Homo sapiens: one gene and its partners. The protein of the gene in region 1 purifies or fractionates together with the protein of each later gene. This does not show direct contact. Each region holds a gene or a part of one and is shown in the gene's direction. Other genes may lie near its edges.

The links.
Region 2: the proteins of MAP3K13 (region 1) and RANGAP1 purify together in Homo sapiens (affinity purification with mass spectrometry, with the first as the bait; one study listed by BioGRID). This does not show direct contact.
Region 3: the proteins of MAP3K13 (region 1) and COLGALT1 purify together in Homo sapiens (affinity purification with mass spectrometry; one large-scale study listed by BioGRID and IntAct). This does not show direct contact.
Region 4: the proteins of MAP3K13 (region 1) and TKT purify together in Homo sapiens (affinity purification with mass spectrometry, with the first as the bait; one study listed by BioGRID). This does not show direct contact.
Region 5: the proteins of MAP3K13 (region 1) and KLHL20 purify together in Homo sapiens (affinity purification with mass spectrometry; 2 studies listed by BioGRID and IntAct, with this or other methods). This does not show direct contact.
Region 6: the proteins of MAP3K13 (region 1) and CYFIP2 purify together in Homo sapiens (affinity purification with mass spectrometry; one large-scale study listed by BioGRID and IntAct). This does not show direct contact.
Region 7: the proteins of MAP3K13 (region 1) and SMC4 purify together in Homo sapiens (affinity purification with mass spectrometry; one large-scale study listed by BioGRID and IntAct). This does not show direct contact.

The regions. Positions count from the first base shown.
Region 1 is NC_000003.12:185,487,365-185,489,594, forward strand, and holds the end of MAP3K13 (mitogen-activated protein kinase kinase kinase 13), read left to right. Parts: 3' UTR 1-1,730; downstream 1,731-2,230. UniProt on the Homo sapiens protein: Activates the JUN N-terminal pathway through activation of the MAP kinase kinase MAP2K7. Acts synergistically with PRDX3 to regulate the activation of NF-kappa-B in the cytosol.
Region 2 is NC_000022.11:41,258,688-41,262,187, reverse strand, and holds part of RANGAP1 (ran GTPase-activating protein 1), read left to right. Parts: intron 1-607; coding exon 608-742; intron 743-3,500. UniProt on the Homo sapiens protein: GTPase activator for RAN. Converts cytoplasmic GTP-bound RAN to GDP-bound RAN, which is essential for RAN-mediated nuclear import and export. Mediates dissociation of cargo from nuclear export complexes containing XPO1, RAN and RANBP2 after nuclear export.
Region 3 is NC_000019.10:17,569,149-17,572,648, forward strand, and holds part of COLGALT1 (procollagen galactosyltransferase 1 precursor), read left to right. Parts: intron 1-2,822; exon of another isoform or gene 2,823-2,843; intron 2,844-3,334; coding exon 3,335-3,454; intron 3,455-3,500. UniProt on the Homo sapiens protein: Beta-galactosyltransferase that transfers beta-galactose to hydroxylysine residues of type I collagen. By acting on collagen glycosylation, facilitates the formation of collagen triple helix. Also involved in the biosynthesis of collagen type IV.
Region 4 is NC_000003.12:53,239,023-53,242,522, reverse strand, and holds part of TKT (transketolase), read left to right. Parts: intron 1-280; coding exon 281-398; intron 399-1,277; coding exon 1,278-1,391; intron 1,392-2,174; coding exon 2,175-2,272; intron 2,273-3,500. UniProt on the Homo sapiens protein: Catalyzes the transfer of a two-carbon ketol group from a ketose donor to an aldose acceptor, via a covalent intermediate with the cofactor thiamine pyrophosphate.
Region 5 is NC_000001.11:173,735,481-173,738,980, forward strand, and holds part of KLHL20 (kelch-like protein 20), read left to right. Parts: intron 1-3,500. UniProt on the Homo sapiens protein: Substrate-specific adapter of a BCR (BTB-CUL3-RBX1) E3 ubiquitin-protein ligase complex involved in interferon response and anterograde Golgi to endosome transport.
Region 6 is NC_000005.10:157,318,123-157,321,622, forward strand, and holds part of CYFIP2 (cytoplasmic FMR1-interacting protein 2), read left to right. Parts: intron 1-1,639; coding exon 1,640-1,806; intron 1,807-2,532; coding exon 2,533-2,680; intron 2,681-3,500. UniProt on the Homo sapiens protein: Involved in T-cell adhesion and p53/TP53-dependent induction of apoptosis. Does not bind RNA. As component of the WAVE1 complex, required for BDNF-NTRK2 endocytic trafficking and signaling from early endosomes.
Region 7 is NC_000003.12:160,430,650-160,433,051, forward strand, and holds part of SMC4 (structural maintenance of chromosomes protein 4), read left to right. Parts: coding exon 1-94; intron 95-382; coding exon 383-556; intron 557-993; coding exon 994-1,176; intron 1,177-1,633; coding exon 1,634-1,866; intron 1,867-2,376; coding exon 2,377-2,402. UniProt on the Homo sapiens protein: Central component of the condensin complex, a complex required for conversion of interphase chromatin into mitotic-like condense chromosomes.

The DNA.
Region 1 (2,230 bases):
CTGTGTTGCCCAGGCTGGTATCGAACTCTGGGCTCTAGCGATCCTCCTGCTTTGGCCTCCCAAAGTACTGGGATTACAAACGTGAGCTGCCATGCCCAGCCTCCAGACTATTTTAAATGCCCTCTCCCACTGTGGAACATTGGCATCCTTTAAGAATAAATGCATCCTTTTTGATCAAATGATTTACTCTTTTTTTCTTCAATGTCCTCATGTCTCAATTTTTTTTTCCTTTTCTTAAAACAGTCCCACTTGAACTTCCTGGAACTGAATTCTCCAGAACATAATATTTATAATCCATAGAATTCCTGCCCTGCTCTGCAGTAGAGTGTGCTATGTTTTGTTTTCCCACTGAGCCAGAAGCCGAAATATTATACTACCACTTACCACCATCTACCACCTCCAAGACCAAGACCAACATTATGTATTGAGCATCGTATCTTTCCTACTGAGCCTAGACACAGCCTCAGAACCTCTCAACATAGCACTTGGAGCAACAATTGCCGCTTGATTGGAATTGCCATTTGAGCTTGAGTTAGCCCCAATGGCAGAACGACAGGCTCGCACTAGTGTCCACCTGTGGCTGTCAGGGGCGGTACCACAGAAAGGGGAAAGGCCACTTGCCTCTACCCACTGCCCTTTTGGACAACAATTCCAATTGAAGGAACACCAATCACTGATGGATCCCATTCCAAAATGTCTCTTCATTCACATCATTTAATTCTGTTGAATGAATATGTTCCTCCCTCACCTTTTATAAACAGAAAATTAATATAAGTCCCAGTTACTTGCTTCTTAGACTCTGTGAGACTCATGTACCAAAACAATGTGACATTCTTTTCGAGACTTTGACTTGTACGGTCAGTATGAATTTAGTGCCTTTCCAGGCAGCAAAATGTTTCTTCTTTGCTGATTTCATAGGACAAATATCCTAGCATACTCACACCACCAGTGTCCCACCCTCACAGACTGGCACATTAGAATCATATTAATCTGCTTGTTTGCATGTTACAACTGATACTGCAAAAGCCTATTCAAGTCGGACTGAACTAGGCTAAGCAGAGGACCCTTGTGGAACCTGGAGCATTTCTCAGGGACAGGTGGCTAAAGAGGGGAGCTCTAAAATCACTGCTCTGAGAAACAGGAGGTGGGTTAAGGCTTTTGTTAACTGTCATGTGGCCAGGGTACGATGGCAGGACTTCACAGAGCAGAGCCCTAAGCAGATGGCAAGGCCACTGTAAGGAAGCTCCCGGCAGCATCCCAGGTCTGCTCTCCAGAGCCACTTCACAGCACTCAGGGATCGCTGGCTCCCGGCCCTAGGCTGCTGTCCAGTGACCAGGTGGACAGGGTCCTCCAGTGACTGCAGGCCAAGGGAACCCCAGCCAGCATGTGCAAGCTATTAGGAAGATGTCCCATCTTGCCCATATCACCCCAGTGGCTCTTCACCTTCAGAGTGACCACTTCCCAGACTCTGGAAGTGGGAAGACCCTCTTTGACGCTTTATTACAGTAATTTGAGCTCCTATCGACTTGGAGCGAATGAATTTCTCTTTTGTGGTTAGGTCTCCAAATGAACCTCCTTACCTGGCTCCCCTCTGGTCTCCTGTACTGTCAGTCCCCAGCTCCCAGTGTTGTTTTCTGATGCCGGCTCCCTCTCTGTATTGAACGGCAATGGGAACAAGAATGACTATCAAAGCAAACAAATGCATGGAATTAAACAAAAAGTGTACTTCACTGTTTTCTAGTCCTGTCTTTTTCTAAATGTACTGTTTGTGCCCTGAGAGCTGCCTTAATAATCTCAGCATTTGTCAGAACTTGAGGGAAAGGAAGACTTTCCATGACTGGGTTTCCTGCAGCCACAAAAAGCAGGTAATGGAGAAAGCTAGTTTCTGCGATTCTTGTATTTGACACAGCCACGAAAGGAAGGGGCAATCATCATTTTATTTGGTGACAGCCTCTTCTTGAGTATTCTGTAAAAGCTAGACTGGCACTCTGCTTCTTCCCTATGCTTTCCTGCTGCCCATCCGGTAGCTACTCCTGTTACTACTGACCCCACTATACAGGGAGCAGAGAGAGAAAATGAAGATGAAAATCTGGCTTCTGAGAAATTATTTTGGTAAGAAGCATTGAGAGTGGAAAGCTTAAAACACCATTTTGGACTGTCCAATTTTCAGCCAATCCTAATTCCCACTGGCAAAGGTAGTTGAAAGTTAGCAACATGTTCAAACAAGCAC
Region 2 (3,500 bases), on another chromosome or scaffold:
TTTACCACCAGCAGGCAAGCTCCTGCTGTGCCTGGCCAGCTTTTAGGCACAGGCAGGTGTCAGACAGGTTCGTCTGGACCGTGGACTTGGCAGCTGGCTCCCTTGGACATTGTGGAACGTGGAAGAGAAGCTGGAAGATTTGGGCTTTGGTCCAGAGTCCACCACTTGTTTATTGACCATAAGAAAGTTTCCGTTCCTCTTACCCTGAGTTTCTTCAGCTGGAAAATGGGAGCCATGATTTTCCCACCTAGCAGAGGGCCTTAGACAGTGAAGTGAGCTGACTAGGAAGTCCTTCCCCTGGACCTGGCTAAAAGTTCATCCACTCCATGTGGTCTCTCCCTTTCCTGAGTAGGGCTTGGTCTCCCCGTCTCGAAAGTGAAGCTAAACCTCTCAGGCTGGTGTGACACAGCATTAGAGATAAAAACCTTGTGTAACTGAAGTGCTGGACATATTTAAGGTGTGACTGTTGAGCTGTTAGCAGTCCTGCGTCCCCTGACCTGCACCGATGGGTGGCGTGGGATGTTGAAGAGCAGTTCAGCAGCAGTGGCCACCCCGCTGGGAGAAGGGGCTCCTGCCCATGACCAGGGCCCCTTGCCTTTCCCCACAGATCCTGGCTGCAGCTCTGACCGAATGTCACCGGAAATCCAGTGCCCAAGGCAAGCCTCTGGCCCTGAAGGTCTTTGTGGCTGGCAGAAACCGTCTGGAGAATGATGGCGCCACTGCCTTGGCAGAAGCTTTTAGGGTGAGTGGTTTCTGTCCATCCTGCCCCTGCAGCCTTGAGGTGCACTCGGCATAGTAGGCTGACAGTTCTGGATGCTAATCCCAGGGCTGGCACTCAACCAAGAGACCTGGGGCGTCACGTGCCCTCTCCAAGCCTGTTAACCCATCCGAAAATGAGCCAGAATTCCTGTCGTGCATTTCTGGAAAGGTGTGTGACTTTCCGGAAAGGTGTGTGACTGGCTCCCACTGGTGAGCCAGCCCCTATGGGGCTTCAGGCCAGGCAGGCCACTCTGACCAAGGAGTGTCATCTGCCAGGCTCAGAAGTGGTGAAGTGAGATGGTGCGAGTGCTGACAGTAGCCTGGCCCAGCCACTGGTGTGGGGCACAGAGAAGGAACATACCAGACCTCCAAGACAGGGAGATAGGCAGGGGCAGCCGCAGGGCTCAGGTGCCAAATGACGTGCTCTCAGGTGACCTTATCCCCACTCCTCTTCCACTCTCCTCTCCCCATCCCCGCAGGACATTGCTGAGTCCCCGATCGTGAGTGCCAGCAGAAGGCTACACTTGCCCCTAACAGGACTGAAAACTTTGGGGTCTGTCTCCCTCCTCTCTTTCCTGTTTTTTTTGAGGCAGAGTCTCATTCTGTCACCCATGCTGGAGTGCAGTGCGTGATCTTGGCTCACTGCAGTCTCCGCCTCCCAGGTTCAAGCAGTTCTGCCTCAGCCTCCCGAGTAGCTGGAATTACGGGCACCCGCCACCACACCCGGCTAATTTTTGTATTTTTATTAGAGACGGGGTTTTACCATGTTGGCCAGGTGGTCTCGAACTCCTGACCTCAAGTGATCTGCCCGCCTGGGCCTCCCAAAGTGCTGGGATTACAGGCGTGAGCCACCACGTCCGGCCCCTCTTCTCTTAATTTAAATGTTTTCTTCAGCAAACAGTATCCTAGGAGCATTGCTCATACGGGCCGGAATGTCCTGGCTGCCCATCGAGGCTGTCTGTAGATACCCTTTGCCTGCTTCAGTGCCAAGTGAACATCGCAGAGATCTGCCTTGTGTCTCCCTGCACCCCTGGCTGCAGGGGAGCTCCTGCTGCCTCCTCTGGAGCTGGTGGGGGCCTCACTGCCATCCTTGGATCCCTCCCTGCCGTCAGCCTGCTGTCCTCAGTGCACTGGGAGGAGGGGGTGCGCTGTGGTTGTGTTGAGCCTTCATAGGTGTCCTCTGGTGGGCTTAGAATGGGGGTTCTTAATCCCCCCCAGTATGTGGATAGAATTCAGGGGTCTGTGAACATGGATGAGGAAAAAATAACATTATTATTTATTACTAATGTAGCTAAAATATGTAGTGTGACCTTTGATTATAAATGTAGACAATAAACCTCACAGCATTAGAAAGGCCTGTGACTACCCACATAACAAACAAGCACATGTAGTCCCTGAACCCAAAAAAAAAAAAAATTTTATTGAGGCAGGGTCTCGCTCTGTTGCCCAGGCTGGAGTACAACGGTGCAATCTCAGCCCACTGCAGTTGAAGCTTCCCAGGCTCAAGTGATCCTCCCACCTCAGCCTCCCGATTAGCTGGGACTACAGGTGTGCACCACCATGCCCACCCAGTTAATTTTTGTATTTTAGTAGAGATGGGGTTTCACCATGTTAGCCAGGCTGGTCTCAAACTCCTGACCTCAGGTAATCCACTCGCCTTGGCCTCCTAAAGTGCTGGGATTATAGGCATAAGCCACTGCGCCCAGCTTAAAATTTTTAAAAAAATAAAAAGAAAATCTTGTGACTTTATCCCCAGTGGAAATCACAGGTATTTCATATGAAGTTATAGTTACTGCTGATATATAGAAATATTTCTCACTACATCAAAATTACAGTAATAGTGGACCCACCCCTAGATCTTGTTATTTGGTGCATTAACAAGAAGTTTGTATATCACTACAGCATGCGTTTGGAGTTTTTTCCTAAATGTTTTGATAACTGTTCCAACTGAGTTGATTTCCTTTGTAATTCTGTGTAATTTATCTTAAAATTTTAAAAAAACATTTTTTGAGGAGGGGACCCAGGGGCTTCACCAGACTGCCTGAAGGGTTCATGGCACAGAAAATACTAAGAAGGCCTGACCTGGAGTGTGCCCAGGTTGGCCTTCCTGTATTTATTTGTGGACCACCCGCTCCCCCCATTGCCCTGTGCTGCACTGAGCACCTGAAGACAGCAGAAGATTCCTTGGCACAGTTAAGCCAGGCCAACCCTCAGTCCTGGGTCACAGTGGAGACTGGGACATGGCCCTCTCCTCCAAAGCTCAGGGGCCGATGGGATGCAGACGGAATATAGGCTTTGAATGTAGGCAGGATGAGGACCACCGTGATAGAGGAGGGACCAGGTGCTCCGGGAGCACAGAGGAACGCACACTGGATCGTGGCTGGGGGAATCCAGGAAGCCTTCCTGGGAGAGGAGGTGACCAAAACAAGAGCCCTAGAACTCATATGAGTTAGCCTGTCAAGAAAATGCTGAATGGCTGGGTGTGGTATCTCACGTCTGTAATCCCAGCACTTTGAGAGGCCGAGGAAGCTGGATCGCCTGAGGTCAGGAGTTCAAGACCAGCCTGGCCAACATGGTGAAACCTCCATCTCTACTAAAAATACAAAATTAGTCGGGTGTGGTGGCGCACGCCTGTAATCTCAGCTACTCAGGAGGCTGAGGCAGGAGAATCACTTGAACCTGGGAGGCAGAGGTTGCGATGAGCCAAGATCATGCCATCACACTCCAGCCTGGGCGACGGA
Region 3 (3,500 bases), on another chromosome or scaffold:
TTGCAGTGAGCCGAGATCATGCCACTGCACTCCAGCCTGGGCAACAAAGTAAGAATCCTTCTCAAGAAAAAAATACCTATTGATTGCATGTTACTATTATTTTTTAATTTGTGTAAATTTATGGAGCACAAGTGTAATTTTGTCACGTGCATAGATTGTGAAGTGGTGAGTCAAGAGATTTTAGGGCATCCATCCCCAAATAATATACATTGAACCCGTTACACAATTTTCCATGATCAACCCCAAATGTTATTTCAATCTTCATACTTTTCTATATTCTCCCAATTTTCTTTTGTTTTTTTTTTTTGAAGTAGAGTCTTGCTCTGTCACCTAGGCTAGAGTGCAGTGGTGCGATCTCGGCTCACTGCAACCTCTGCCTCCTGGTTCAAGAGATTCTCCTGCCTCAGCCTCCCAAGTAGCTGGGATTACAGGCATACGCCACCATGTCTGGCTCATTTTTATATTTATAGTAGAGACAGGGTTTCCCCAGGTTGGCCAGGCTGGTCTCAAACTCCTGACCCCAGGTGATCCGCCCACCTCGGCCTCCCAAAGTGCCGGGATTACAGGAGGGAGCCACTGCACCTGGGCCATTCTCCTAATTTTCTACAGTTGAGCATATATTAATTGTTTAATTGGGAAAACAAATATTTAAAGAGACAGCACAGCCTCATGTTGACTTGTTGTTTACTGGAAACCAGAGGTTGGCAAACTGACCTGCAGGCCAAACCTGGCCCACTAATTACTTTTTTTTTTTTTTTTTTTTTGAGACGGAGTCTCGCTCTGTCGCCCAGGCTGGAGTGCAGTGGCCCGATCTTGGCTCACTGTAAGCTCCGCCTCCTGGGTTCACGCCATTCTCCTGCCTCAGCTTTCCGCGTAGCTGGGACTACAGGCACCAGCCACCAGGCCCGGCTAATTTTTGTATTTTTAGTAGAGACGGGGTTTCACTGTGTTAGCCAGGATGGTCTTGATCTCTTGACCTTGTGATCTGCCCACCTCGGCCTCCCAGAGTGCTGGGATTACAGGCGTGAGCCACCGCGCCTGGCCCCACTAATTACTTTTATATGGCCACAAGCTAACAACAACTTTTATATTTTATTTTTATTTTTTTAGAGACACAGTCTTACTCTGTCACCCAGCCTGGAGTGCAGTGGTGTGATCGTAGCTCACTGCAGCCTCAACCTCCTGGGCTCAAGCAATCCTCTCATCTCAGCCTCCAGACTGGCTGGGGCTATAGGCACCTGCCTACATGCCCAGCTAATTGAAAAAAAAAATGTTTTTGTAGAGATGGGGTCTTGCTATGTTGCCCAGACTAGACTTGAACTCCTGGCCTTAAGTGATCCTTCCCACCTCAGCCTCCCAAAGCGCTAGGAATACAAACGTGAGCTACGGTGCCTGGCCAACAATTTTTACATTTTTATTATTTATTTATTTATTTGACACAGGGTCTCCCTCCGTTGCCCAGGCTGGAGTACAGTGGCATGATCTCAGCTCACTGCAACCTCCACCTCCCAGGTTCAATTGATTCTCCTGCCTTAGCCTCCCTAGTAGCTGGGACTACAGGTGTGCACCACCACGCCTGGCTAATTTTTGTATTTTTAGTAGAGATGGGGTTTTGCCTGTTGGCCAGGCTGGTCTCGAACTCCTGACCTCAGGTGATTCACCCGCCTCAGCCTCACAAAATGCTGGGATTACGGGCATGAGCCACCACACCCGGCCAATTTTTACATTTTTAAATCACTGGGGAAAAGAATCAAAAGAAGAAGAATATTGTGACACATGAAAACTGTATGAAATTCAGATTTCATTGCCCATCAATAAAGTGTCATCAGTACCCAGCCAAGCCCATTCATTTAAGTGTCGTCTGTAGCTGCTTTCAAGTGCCACAGGCAGAACAGAGTCATTGAGATAGAAACCGTCTGGCACACAAGCCTAAAATACTTACCACCTGGCCCTTTATAGAAGAAATTGACCAATTAAAATTAAAAGAGGCCGGGTGTAGTGGCTCATGCCTGTAATCCCAGCACTTTGGGAGGGTGAGGTGGGTGGATCACATGAGGTCAAGAGTTTGAGGCCAGCCTGGCCAACATGGTGAAACCCGTCTCTGCTAAAAATACAAAAATTGGCTGGGCATGGTGGTGGGTGCCTGTAGTCCCAGCTACTTGGGAGGCTGAGGCACAAGAATTGTTTGAACCCAGGAGGCAGTGAACGGAGATCACACCACTGCAATCCAGCCTGGGCGACAGAGCGAGACTCTGTCTCAAAAAAAATAAATAAATTAAATTAAAAGAGCATCATTGAGTTTTTTAGTCTAAAAAAGATACACACTTGGCTGGGCTCAGTGGATCACTTGAGGTCAGGATTTCGAGACCAGCCTGGCCAACGTGGTGAAACCCCACCTCTACTAAAAAAAAATACAGAAATTAGCTGGGTGTGGTGGCGGGTGCCTGTAATCCCAGCTACTTGGGAGGCTGAGGCAGGAGAATTGCTTGAACCCCAGAGGCGGAGGTTGCAGTGAGCCGAGGTGGCACCACTGAACTCCAGCCTGGGCGACAGAACGAGACTCTGTCTCAAAAAAAAAGATACACACTCATCAAAATTTAAACCATCCAGAAAAGGATAGATGTAGAAGGAAGTAACTTAACTCACATTTTGTCAAACTTTCCTTTTTGTGCCTCAACATGCATTTTTACTGTTTTTTTTTTGGGTTTGTTTTTGAGACAGGGCCTTGCCCTGTTGCCTAAGCTGGAGTGCAGTGTGCCATCATAGCTCATGGCAGCCTCAAGTCTCCTGGGCTCAAGTGATCCTCCTGCCACAGCCTCCCGAGGAGCTGGGACCATAGGCAGGTACCACCATTCCCAGCTAATTTTAAAATTATTTGTAGAGCCGGGCGTGGTGGCTCATACCTGTAATCCCAGCACTTCAGGAGGCCAAGACAGGTGGATCGCGAGGTCAGGAGATCGAGACCATCCTGGCTAACATGATGAAACCCCGTCTCTACAAATACAAAAAATTAGCCAGGCATGGTGGCATGTGCCTGTAGTCTCAGCTACTAGGGAGGCTGAGGCAGGAGAATCACTTGAACCCGGGAGGCGGAGGTTGCAGTGAGCCAAGGTAGTGCCACTGCACTCCAGCCTGGGAGAGTGAGACTCTGTCTTAAAAAAAAAAAAAAGTTGTTTGTAGATATAAGGTCTTGCTCTGTTGCCCAGGCTGGTCTCAGACACCTGACCTCAAGCGATCCTCCTGCGTTGGCCTCCTGAAGCCGTGGGATGGAAGGCATGAGCCACTGGGCCTCGCCTGTTTTTACATTTGTCTGTTGCTTCCCTGCCCACTGCAGAGGTTCAGATGTATGTGTGCAACAAGGAGGAGTACGGATTCTTGCCAGTGCCATTGCGCGCCCACAGCACCCTCCAGGATGAGGCCGAGAGCTTCATGCATGTGCAGCTGGAGGTCATGGGTGAGTCTGCCTGCACACCGCCCTGGGAGGTGCCAGGTTGCCTCCC
Region 4 (3,500 bases), about 130 Mb from region 1:
CCAGATATTTTCAGTTGCCGTGATTCTGAGGATCTGATGCCCCTGGAAAGGTACAACAGTCCCCAGCACCCACTAGCTGGCCCAGGCCCCAAACTGCCAGGAGTGGCCTTCTTGAGACCATGTGTCACCCTCCCAGGGAACAAGAGCTCGTGGCTGTCTGATAAGCCAGGCCTGTGTGACTCCTCAGGACATGCACCCCCAGGTCCCTGTACAGCTGAGCACAATAGCTCAGGAGTGCAGGGCCATGATGCCTGTGTCTGTCTTCTCTCCTGGGCCACAGCCACCCCACGTCATGCTGCAGCGCCGCAGAGATCATGGCTGTCCTCTTTTTCCACACCATGCGCTACAAGTCCCAGGACCCCCGGAATCCGCACAATGACCGCTTTGTGCTCTCCAAGGTAAGAGCCCAGCTGCCCACTGCCAGCCACACCTTGCCTGGGACTAGGGTCACACGGGCCCTGGAATGGTGAGTGGTCTTTGAGGAGACCTGGCTGGGCCCACCTCTCCCAGGTGCCTTCTCCCTGCTCGTCCTGGCCTCTCCCTCAGTGTCCTGCTCTGTGCTGACCCAGCTGGCTAAGGAATACAGGACTGAATTGATGGGTTGCTCTGCCATGGAGCCCAGGTACATAAACAACGCTTTAACTCAAAGAAATGGAGTAGGGGACTACGGAAACATCTGTTGTGTGTTCTGCCCAGTCTGGGTGTTGACAGGCAGGACTGGCATCTCGGTCTGGGTTGTGGCTCCCTACCTGCTCTATCTGTGTTGTGCCAGCGCTCCCGAGGCCACGGCTTGCCCCCTCGGGGTGGTGGTGTGCTGTAGCAGGGTTTTGGATGGGGACCCCCTGACCCCCCCCTTCTGGGTGGAATCACAGCCACAGATCCCTGAAATCCACCTGTGCTCAGGCCTGCCTCCGTGGCGTTTGGTCTCTCGGGCAGGCTTTAGAGCTTAGAAGTCTGTCCAAGTTGTTCCCATGCCACAAACCAGGGATTAGGGCAGCCGGCTGCCTGCTGGGGTTTTGGCTTCGTCCAGCCTCACAGCTGTGCCCCCTGCACCTGTCTTAGTGCCTGCCTGGCCTTGGCAGTGGGAACTTTGGGCTGAAAACCAAGAGGCTGAAGAGGGCTGAAAGGGGAGAAGTGGCCTTCACTTGCTTCCTCCCCTGAAATGGATGCTGCAGTTGGCCGGCTCGGCCGGGCCCCAGGGGTCAGTGTGAAGTAGGCACAGCCCGAAGTAGAACCGCTCCCCACCTGACCTCACCCCACCATCCATCTCCCGGCAGGGCCATGCAGCTCCCATCCTCTACGCGGTCTGGGCTGAAGCTGGTTTCCTGGCCGAGGCGGAGCTGCTGAACCTGAGGAAGATCAGCTCCGACTTGGACGGGCACCCGGTCCCGGTAAGTGCTCCTGCCAGAGCCTCCCATGCCTCTGCCTCCACTTCCTATTTCCCAGACATGTGGGACGGGGGTAGGGGGTGCCCACTGAGAAGCCAAAGGTGTTGAAAGGCGGAGGAGGGCATTGAGTTGAGGAAGGAAAGAAGCAGGTGTTTTGGGGACACGTATTCAACCCAAGCTGGTGCCAAAGGGGAAGGCCTTCTGAGGCCTCAGCCAGGGTGCTCTGGGATGACTTCAGGGAGGGCCTCTCCCCAAGCTACCCTTCTGCACTGGGCCTCCTTGGCTAGGTAGCTACAGCTTGGGAAGAGAGGGGACTCGATAAGGGAGTGGCTGCAGGATGCTGGCGAAACCCTGGGGAAGGGACCCAGTTTGTTCCTTGGGGTGCCATCTGGCATCCCTGCAAACGTTAAGACTTCATGGATTACCACAAAAACTGTCACATGGTCTGGGTCCCCACGAGGGGCAAATGTTCTGTCAATTTTTTCATGATTCTCTCTCCCAGCACTTTGTGAAGTGGGTGATGTGGGAACTGAGGCTCACAGAGGTTCAGTCCCTTGCCTGAGGCCTGAGGCCACATAGCTGGCTAGTGGGCAGGGCTGGGATTTGAACCTATAATTATAATTAGTTCATTAGGAGAAGAAGTCACATGCTAGGTAGAGGCCATCCTGGGGCCTGACCTTCTGCAGAGGAAGGGCTTGCTGGGCTGGGTGGGAGTGTGGCTCCCTAGGCGGGTGAGACCAGGATCCCTTCTCCTCTCAGATTAACGGTGGCCTTCTGTTATGACAGAAACAAGCTTTCACCGACGTGGCCACTGGCTCCCTGGGCCAGGGCCTCGGGGCCGCTTGTGGGATGGCCTACACCGGCAAATACTTCGACAAGGCCAGGTAACACACCTACTCCCCACCCCCAACCTGGGTAGTTTTGGGGAGTGGTCCTTGGGTGACCCACCCTTCACCATCGCCCCCAGACTCTTCCTCTTTCCTGGCTAGGGCAGAGTAATACATATGCGTGGCCTCTTTTGCTCTTTAAACATCCGCTATGGCTGGTGCCATGACCGGCCCCCTTTACAAATGAGGAAACACTCAGGAGTTAAGGGACCTGCCCTGGGTCCCTCAGCAGTGACTGGCAGGGCCAGGTTTGCACAGAGTGCGTGCTCTCAATCATGTGCTCTTCAGCCAGAGTGCTTAGGCTGAGGACTTCCTGTTTTGCCCCCAGCCCTGTGCCCAGACCCCAGAAGTCTCAGAAAGACCCACCCCCAGGCCCCTGTCTGACTAGGCACCAGGAGCCCAGGCCTGAGCCACTTGCCTTTATCTTGGTAAAGGGGAGGGTTGTATGTTCTGAGGGGTTCTGGGATACCTGTAAGCCACCTCCTATCAGCAGGGAAGAAACAAACATTTGAGAGATTGAGCCTTCAGAGGGTGGGTGATGAGCCTGACCAGAAAGGTGTGCTGCTCTAGCGCCCACCAGGTGATTTGTAGGAACGGCCCCCCAGGAAGGTTCTAGCCATAAGTTTGTCTGCGGTGGTCAGATATGGCCTGGGGGGATGAGGTTGTAAACTGTTAAGAATAATGGCTGGCTGAGGGAAGGATTGCTTGAGGCCAGGAGTTCCAGACCAGCCTAGGCAACAGAGCAAGACTCTCTCTACAAAAAATACAAAACTTAGCCAGGCATGGTGGTACACACCTGTAGTCCCAGCTACATAGGAGGCTGAGGTGGGAGGATCACTTGAGCCTAGGGCTTCAAGATTATAGCTATACATGATTGAGCCACTGCACCCTAGCCTGGGCTACAGAGCGAGACTCTGCCTCTTTAAAAAAAAAATTATTCTTTTTTTTAAAGAATAATCACTGTATTAGTCTGTTTCCACACTGCTGATAAAGGCATACCCAAGTCTGGGGAAGAAAAAGAGGTCTAATGGACTTACAGTTCCACATGGCTAGGGAGGCCTCACAGTCATGCTGGAAGGTAAGGAGGAACAAGTCACATCTTATGTGGAAGGCGCAGGCAAAGAGAGAGTTTGTGCAGGGAAACTCCCGTTTTTAAAACCATCAGATCTTGTGAGACTTATTCACCATCACGAGAACAGCATGGGGAAGACCTGTCCCCATGATT
Region 5 (3,500 bases), on another chromosome or scaffold:
CCTAAGAGTGCTAGAAAACCATTAAAGGGTTTTAAGCAAAGACAAAACATGGTCTGTTTTACAACTTTTTAAAAAATCATATTTTTATTTATTTTGCAGTAAAGTGGTCAGCTCAGGACCATAGTTTTTTTCCCCCTAATAGTTTTTGGAGAACAGGTGGTGTTTGATTATATGAATAAGTTCTTCATTGATGATTTCTGAGATTTTGGTGCATCCACCACCCGAGCAGTGTACACCGTACCCAATGTGTAGTCTTTTATCTCTCACCCACCTCCCACACTTCCCCCTGAATCCCCAAAGTCCATTGTGTCATTCTTACGACTTTGCATCCTCATAGCTTAGCTCCCACTTATAAGTGAGAACATATCATTTTTGGTTTTCCATTCCTGAGTTACATCACTTAGAATAATGGTCTCCAACCAACTCCATCCAGATTGCTGCAAATGCCATTCTATCTTTTTTTTTTTTTTTTTTTTTTGAGATGGAGTCTCACTTGCTCTGTTGCCCACGCTGGAGTGCAACGGGGCTCAATCTCAGCTCACTGCAACTTCTGCCTCCTGGGTTCAAGTGATTCTCCTGCCTCAGCCTCCCAAGTAGCTGGGACTATAGGTACATGCCACCATGTCCAGCTAATTTTTGTATTTTTATTAGAGATGGGGTTTCACCATGTTGGCCAGGCTGGTCTCAAATTCCTGACCTCAAGTGATCTGTGATCTGCTTGCCTCAGCCTACCAAAGTGCTGGGATTACAGGCGTGAGTCACTGTTCCTGGCCAATATATTGTTCCTTTTTATGGCTGAGTAGTATTCTGTGGTATATATACATACCACATTTTCTTTATCCACTTGTTGATTGATGGGCATTTGGGCTGGTTCCGTATTTTTGCAGTTGTGAATTGTGCTGCTATAAACATGCACATGCAAGTGTCTTTTTCATATAATGACTTCTTTTCCTCTGGGCAGTAACCAGTAGTGGGATTGCTGGAACAAATGGTAGATATACTTTTGGTTCTTTAAGAAATCTCCATATACTGTTTTCCATAGTGGTTGCACTAGTCCACATTCCCACCAGCAATGTAAAAGTGTTCCCTTTTCACCACATCCATGCCAACATCTTTTTTTTTTTTTTAATTTTGAAACAGAGTCTCACTGTGTTGCCCAGGCTGGAGTGCAGTGGCATGATCTCGGCTCACTGCAACCTCCGCCTCCCGGGTTCAAGCGATTCTCCCACCTCAGCCTCCCGAGTAGCTGGGATTACAGGGATTTGCCACCACACCAAGCTAATTTTTGTATTTTTAGTAGAGATGGGGTTTCACCATGTTGGCCAGGCTGGTCTCAAACTCCTGACCTCAGGTGATCTGCCCGCCTTGGCCTCCCAAAGTGCTGGGATTACAGGCATGAGCCACCGCACCCGGCCTATGTTTTTATTTTTTAAATTATGGCCATTCTTGCAGGAGTAAAGTGGTATCACATTGTGGTTTTGATTTGCTGATCATTAGTGATGTTGAGCATTTTTTCATATGTTTGTTGGCCATTTGTATATCTTCTTTTGAGAATTGTCTATTGGTCTTTAGCCCACTTTTTGATGGAATTATTTGTTTTTTTCCTTGGTGATTTGTTTGAATTCCTTGTAGATTCTGGATATTAGTCTGTGGTTGGATCTGTAGTTTGCAAACATTCTCTCCCACTCCGTGGGTTGTCTATTTACTCTGCTGATTATTTCTTTTGCTGTGCAGAAGCTTTTTAGTTTAAGTTCCATCTATTTATCTTTGTTTTTGTTGCATTTGCTTTTGGTTCTTGATCATGAACTCTTTGCCTGAGCCAATGTCTAGAAGGGTTTCTCCAATGTTATCTTCTAGAATTTTTATGGTTTCATGTCTTAGATTTAAGTCTTTGATCCATCTTGAGTTGGTTTTTGTATAAGGTGAGAGATGAAGATTCAGTTTCATTCTTCTACATGTGGCTTGCCAATTATCCCAGCACTGTTTGCTGAATAGGGTGTCCTTTCCCCACATTATGTTTTTGTTTGCTTTGTCAAAGATCAGTTGGCTTTAACTATTTGGCTTTATTTCTGGGTTCTCTATTCTTTCCATTGGTCTATGTACCTATTTTTATGCCAGTATCATGCTGTTTTGGTGACTATAGCCTTGTAAAATAGTTTGAAATTAGGTAATGTGATGCCTCCAGATTTGCTTAGCCTTCCTTTGGGTATGTGGGCTCATTTTTGGTTCCATATGAATTTTAGGATTGTTTTTTCTAGTTCTGTGAAGAATGATGGTGGTATTTTTATGGGAATTGCATTGAATTTATAGATTCTCTTGGCTGTATAGACATTTTCACAATATTGATTCTACCCATTCATGAGCATGAGATGTGTTTCCATTTGTTTGTGTCATCTATGATTTCTTTCAGCAGTGTTTTGGTAGAGACCTTTCACTTCTGTAGTGAGATATATTCCTAAGTATTTTATCTTTTTTTTTTTTTTTGCAGCTATTATAAAAGGGGTTGGGTTCTTGATTTGATTCTCAGCTTGGTTGCTCTTCGTGTATAGCAGTACTACTGGTTTGTGTACATTAATTTTGTACCCTGAAACTTTACTGAATTCATTTACCAGTTCTTGGAGCTTTTTGGATGAGTCTTTAGGGTTTTCTAGGTATACAATCATATTGTCGGCAAACAGCGACAGTTTGACTTTCTCTTTAACAATTTGGATGCTCTTTATTTCATTTGTTTGTTTGTTATAAGAGATGAGGTCTTGCTTTGTCCCCCAGCTTTGACCTCCAGGGCACAAGCGATCCTCCCGCCTCAGCCCCCCACGTAGCTGGGACTACAGATGCGCACCATCATGCCCGGCTAATTTTTGTATTTTTCTGTAGAGACACGGTTTTGCCATGTTGCCCAGGCTGGTCTCAAACTCCTGAGCTCAGGCAATCCACCTGCCTCGGTGTCCCAAAGTGTTGGGAGTACAGGCATGAGCCACTGCACCTGGTCCTGGATGCCCTTTATTTCTTTCTCTTGTGTGATTGCTTTGCCTAGGACTTAAAGTACTATGTTGAATAGAAGTGGTGAAAGTGGGCATCTTTGTCTTGTTCCAGTTCTCAGGGGGAATGCTTTCAACTTTTCCTGTTCAGTATAATATTGGCTGCAGGTTTGTCATAGATGGTTTTTATTACCTTAAGGTATGTCCCTTCTATGCCGATTTTCCTGAGCATTTCAATCATAAATTGATGCTAGATTTTGTCAAATGCTTTTTATGTATCTAATGAAATGATCATATGATTTTTATTTTTAATTCTGTTTATGTGGTATATCACAATTATTGACTTGCATATGTTAAACTATCCCTTCATCCCTGGTATGAAACCCACTTGATCATGGTGGATTATCTTTTTGATATGCTGTTGGATTCAGTTAGCTATTATTTTGTGGAGGATTTTTGCATCTATGTTCATCAGGGATACTGGTCTGTAGTTTTGTTTCTTTGTTATGTTCTTTCCTGGTT
Region 6 (3,500 bases), on another chromosome or scaffold:
TCTTCAGTCAAATATATGTCGCAAATATTTTTTCTCATCAGTGACTTTGCCTTTTCATTTTTTAAGGGTGCCTTTTGAAGAGCAGCTGTTTTTAATTTTGATGAAGTCCAATTTGTCAGTTATTTGGTGGTTAGTGATTTGGGGGTTTCAGCTAAGAAATCTTTGCCTTGTCTAGAGTTGTAAAGATTTTTCCTTTAGATCCAACAGGCCTGCCCACTCCTCTGTATTTGGAGCCATTCTGAGACATCTTCATTATTTACTCCTTCCTTTTTCCTAATGTCTCCTAGTTATATCTGTAGCCAGGGGCCCAGATTCTGTTATGATCTAACAGTCCTCTAATGCTTCTCTCCCATTATTTCTCTGCACTAAAGCTCATCACCAACAAAATTGTTGTACTGTTGGTGCCAATGAAAACCATCACCTCCTGAGTTGTTTTCATACCAGTTCTATCTAAAAATGTTCTTTTTCTTCCTTTAAGTTTTAGAGAAAAAAACAGCCTTAGGGTCTGAGCTCATTCATTCATTTATTTGTTCCTTTTCAACAGAAAATGTGTCTGCCCACCATGGACCCAGACACTGGCAGTTGGGCGTGCACAGCATAGCTGGGCCCTGTCCTGTGTATTTCCAGTCTGGTGTAGAAGGTGGAACATGCCATTATGGGTGTGATCTGTGTGGCAGTTGTGAGGTGGACGATCTGCCACATGCCTTTCCCTCTGAATTCTGAATCAATTGAGAAATTAATATTAGAGGCCAATGGAGTCAAAGGCTCAGACTTACTGCTGGTAAAGCTAGACTAGAGAATGTGGTTTTCACCCAAGGCCACACCAGTGTTCCTATGCCTCCTACATCTCATTAAACTTGCCACTAGGTAATAGGCAAAGCAGCTGCATAGATACACGCCTCCCTTCCTCGGGATGGGCAGGGGATGGTTACTGCAAGAAGCAGCCAGAAACCTAGAAGGGAGGCCACATACTTGCAGGCAGGCAGGTCCCAAAAGAGCGAGCCAAGGTCAGGCCAGGCTCCTCTCATCACACGTGCCTGAATCCCCATCTCTCCAAACAGATAAGTGAGTTAGGGTAAGGAGAAGGGAAATAGGGGAGTAGAGGCATTCTCCCCCATGACTTCTGCAGGAGAAGTTTTGATTTTATAAACTCAAGCAGCAACTGGCCAAACGGTTTCAAAAACAAAGGTTGTAAAAATTCTTTAGAAAATTTTATGTTAAAAAAGTTCTATTTGATGTTGTCTGTGAGTGCCTGGTCTATGGAGAGGCCTTCAAAAGCCAAGGCACTTCTCAAAATGCTCAAATTGTGGCCCATGGGCCAGCTGCTATTTGTCAGCAGTGAACAACAAAATTGGGAGCTCATGCGAGGATGAAAATCAGTTGCATTGCGAAGAATGCTGTTAGTTGAGCTGACATTTGTGTTTTGTAGCAAGACTTTCTCAATGAATGAAGCCAAGTGCTGATATACGTACATTCTGGCACACATCTCTTACCTAGCCATGCGCTGGCACTTTGAGTAGCACTGGCCTCATGCCTCTGGACATCTCACTCCCCGCCTCCCCTGGCAGGGCGGTGATGGGTAGTAGACAGCTGGTGTGCTGGACATGGTGAACATGACCCTTGGCCTCTTCCTGCCCAGGTGATCGCCATGATCAAAGGCCTGCAGGTGCTCATGGGCAGGATGGAGAGCGTCTTCAACCAGGCCATCAGGAACACCATCTACGCGGCATTGCAGGACTTCGCCCAGGTGACGCTGCGTGAGCCCCTGCGGCAGGCGGTACGGAAGAAGAAGAATGTCCTCATCAGGTGGGTTTTCAGATGCCTTCAGGAGCATATCAGACATAAGCATGCCAGGTACCCATCAGAGAGGATGTCCTGGCTCAGCCACTGAACACACATGGGTCCTTCCAGCAAGCTCCAGAGGGCTCTTTAGGAGATTGGGCATTTGGGATGAATTAAGCCTTCATCTCTAGAAGTCCATATCCACTGCTATCTAGCTGTGTGAACTTGGTCAGGTTGCTGACCTTCTCCAAACCTCAGTTTTCCTCATTTGTAAAATGGGGATTATAATGCTACCTGCTGCCTGTTGGGATGATGAAATGAGATGGTCCATATATAGACCTAAGCACATGCAGCATGGAGTAAGTATGCAGCACATCTAAGCTATTATGAAAACTAAGCACACACAGATTTCATAAGACCGGTGAGACTCCCCTATAACCAGAAAGGAAATACAGACCTCTTGCCTCACACAAGTTCTGTCTCACTCGATGGGCTCAGAGCTGAGTTCTCAGACATCCCTTGGACATCAGAACCATGTAGGACACTTGTTTAAACACAGATTCCTGGACTGTACCTTAAATCTGTTAAACCAGAGTTTTGGAATTGGGGCAGAAATGAGCATGCTTTACAAGCACCCCAAGAATTCAAATGTGGGTGTTCCTGGGACACCACGGGCCCTAGAAACACAAGCTTGTAGTGACGTTTTCCCATGGTGAAACCTGGTCTAAGTCTTAGTTCTTCCTTCCCCAGCGTCCTACAGGCAATTCGAAAGACCATCTGTGACTGGGAGGGAGGGCGAGAGCCCCCTAATGACCCATGCTTGAGAGGGGAGAAGGACCCCAAAGGTGGATTTGATATCAAGGTGCCCCGGCGTGCTGTGGGGCCATCCAGCACACAGGTAAGCGGCTCCAGGCACAGGCCAGCTGCGTTGACTCAGAGGCCAGCCGGGCTATGGTAGATCATCATGGCTGGCCATGGGCAGTGGGACTGGGAGCCGTCGGTCAGGAGGGGCAGGGTTGAGTGGCTGCTCCGGTCTTATTCTGCCATCTTGTTTTGATATAGGAAGGAGGACCACTGGCTTAAGATTCAGGAGACCTGGATTCTAGTCCTAGATACCTGTGTGACCTCGGGCACTTTACAGATCTCTCTGTGCCTCAGTTGTTTAAACTGGCTAATGGGGATAATACCACCACATCCACCTTGCCTGGCTATCTTCTAGTCCTATGAAGTATAGATTCCAAAGTGGAGGAGGAGGTTAAAGTGGAATCTATCTGCATGCATCTATGCTGCCCCTCTTTAATAAGTCCTGGCCCTTTCCCCTAAAAGTTCTGCCTCTGACTTGCTGTGTGATCTTGGGCAAGCACCTTGAGCTTTCTGAGCTCTGATTATCTTCTCTGTAAAATGAAAACTTTGGATGAGATTGTGTTACTAACAAAATATTCCTTAGTTCCACATCCTTCCAAAAGTGCAAGTATTGAAAGCCCTTGTCCCCTTAGAGGAAGTCTAGTATTTGGAAACACTCAGAGTTGCCAGCCAGAGCTTCTGCACAAGAGGTCGCCCGTGGCTTATCCAGAGCAGTCATAACGTTACAGAAAAAAAAGTCAATAATCTGGGCATCTTCGTTAAATCCCTGCTACCTACTTAAGGATAGGTAGTTTCTGGTAATATTTTTGATGTACTGGAAAAAGCAGATGGTTCTCATTGCAAGTTTAAGGGTC
Region 7 (2,402 bases), about 25 Mb from region 1:
AGATACTGAGAAAGAGGTGGATGACCTAACAGCAGAGCTGAAAAGTCTTGAGGACAAAGCAGCAGAGGTCGTAAAGAATACAAATGCTGCAGAGGTATGAGTTGCTTTGTATTGAAGAGGAGATGGGATGATACTGGAACCAATTTAAAGAGCTGGATATATGACAGTGCCTAGAATGTAGTAAGCACTCATAGACTTAAAGTTTTATAACTATCAATTTTTATTTGTACAATAAGAATACTATAATTTGTGAATTTAAATGCTTAAATTATTTTAAAATGGAAGGGGCATGAGGAGAGATTGGTAATTCCTTCATCTCTGTAATGTGAAAATGATGGCTCTATTTGGAAAATTCTATCTAGCAGTTCTTTTCGGTGTTTAGGAATCCTTACCAGAGATCCAGAAAGAACATCGCAATCTGCTTCAAGAATTAAAAGTTATTCAAGAAAATGAACATGCTCTTCAAAAAGATGCACTTAGTATTAAGTTGAAACTTGAACAAATAGATGGTCACATTGCTGAACATAATTCTAAAATAAAATATTGGCACAAAGAGGTGAGATTGTTACCGTTTAGTTTAATTTTAAACATATTCTTTATGAAAAAGGAGGGTTTGGGGAGGATTGTTTTAGGGGGTTGGGGTTCTTAAATTTTGTTTGTGAGCTACATTGTGATTTTTAATTCTGTGATCACTTCTAAGGTTTATAGGGGACATAACAATATAAATTGTTATATACAGAAAAGTCTGAGTAACGATTAGAATTAGACAACTACCCTTTCACCCTAGGGCTGATCTGGACATTTAAGAAAAGATTACATGGACACTTTTGAGTGTTACAACTATTTTTCTTGAAGTCCTTTGAAAAATAATTGATAAATCAGTCACAACTCCTGTTGTTTTCATAGCTGTGTAATTTGTCATATTTTTTTTTAAACAATGAATTGTATGTAATATTATGCCTTCTCTAACTCTCCCCTAAATTGAACTTTTAGATTTCAAAAATATCACTGCATCCTATAGAAGATAATCCTATTGAAGAGATTTCGGTTCTAAGCCCAGAGGATCTTGAAGCGATCAAGAATCCAGATTCTATAACAAATCAAATTGCACTTTTGGAAGCCCGGTGTCATGAAATGAAACCAAACCTCGGTGCCATCGCAGAGTATAAAAAGAAGGTATGAATGAACTGTGTATGTATACTAGTTGGAGTTCTTTTTAGTCCTTAGCCTAAATTCTGATCTTTAGTTTTGTATAATTAACAATGCTGTTGGCCGGGCGTGGTGGCTCACGCCTGTAATCCCAGCACTTTGGGAGGCCAAAGGCGGGTGGATCACAAGGTCAGGAGTTCGAGACCAGCTGGGCCAACATAGTGAAACCTCATCTCTATTAAAGATACAAAAAATTAGCCAGGCGTTGTGGCACGTGCCTGTAATCCCGGGTACTCGGGAGGCTGAGGCAGGAGAATCGCTTGAACCTGGGAGGTGGAGGTTGCCGTGAGCCGAGATCGCGCCATTGCACTCCAGCCTGGGCGTCAGGGCAAGACTACGTCTCAAAACAAAGTAATAATTAACAATGCTAATTATCATATCAAATTTATCTGAATAGATTTTCCCTATCATAATCTTTTCACAGGAAGAATTGTATTTGCAACGGGTAGCAGAATTGGACAAAATTACTTATGAAAGAGACAGTTTTAGACAGGCATATGAAGATCTTCGGAAACAAAGGCTTAATGAATTTATGGCAGGTTTTTATATAATAACAAATAAATTAAAGGAAAATTACCAAATGCTTACTTTGGGAGGGGACGCCGAACTCGAGCTTGTAGACAGCTTGGATCCTTTCTCTGAAGGAATCATGTTCAGGTGTGTAATTATGCTGAGTTTATAATCCCACTGTTACCTTTTTCTACATATTCTCCAAACTCAGTATTTCTTGGAGGTAGGATGTGAAGGCAAGATGTACAACTTGTTTCATTTACTAGTAAATACTAATTTGCTTGCATGCTATTTATGCTTGCAGTTTACAGGGGCAGACAGCCAGTATTTACAAAATATTTGTCTAGTTCATCTTTTCTTAAATTTTCAAGGCATTTTTAACATGAGGATTGAGAAATTGTATTTGATAAGGAGAAAGAATAGCAAGAAGTATAATACTTAGCTTGCTCTTTAAATCTTAAAACTTTGGTATGTGCTCCTATGTATGCATCCTCCAATAACGTTTTTATAAAATAACAGAAAAGAGAATTCATATTTGTGAAAAGCAAGTTACAGATTCCTAAAAAAGATAGTAGAACTCAATTATGGAAAGCAAATCACAAAGTCTTAACTTTAGCTTTACAGGTAATTTGACTATGATTTTCTTAATCATTTCAGTGTTCGACCACCTAAGAAAAGTTGGA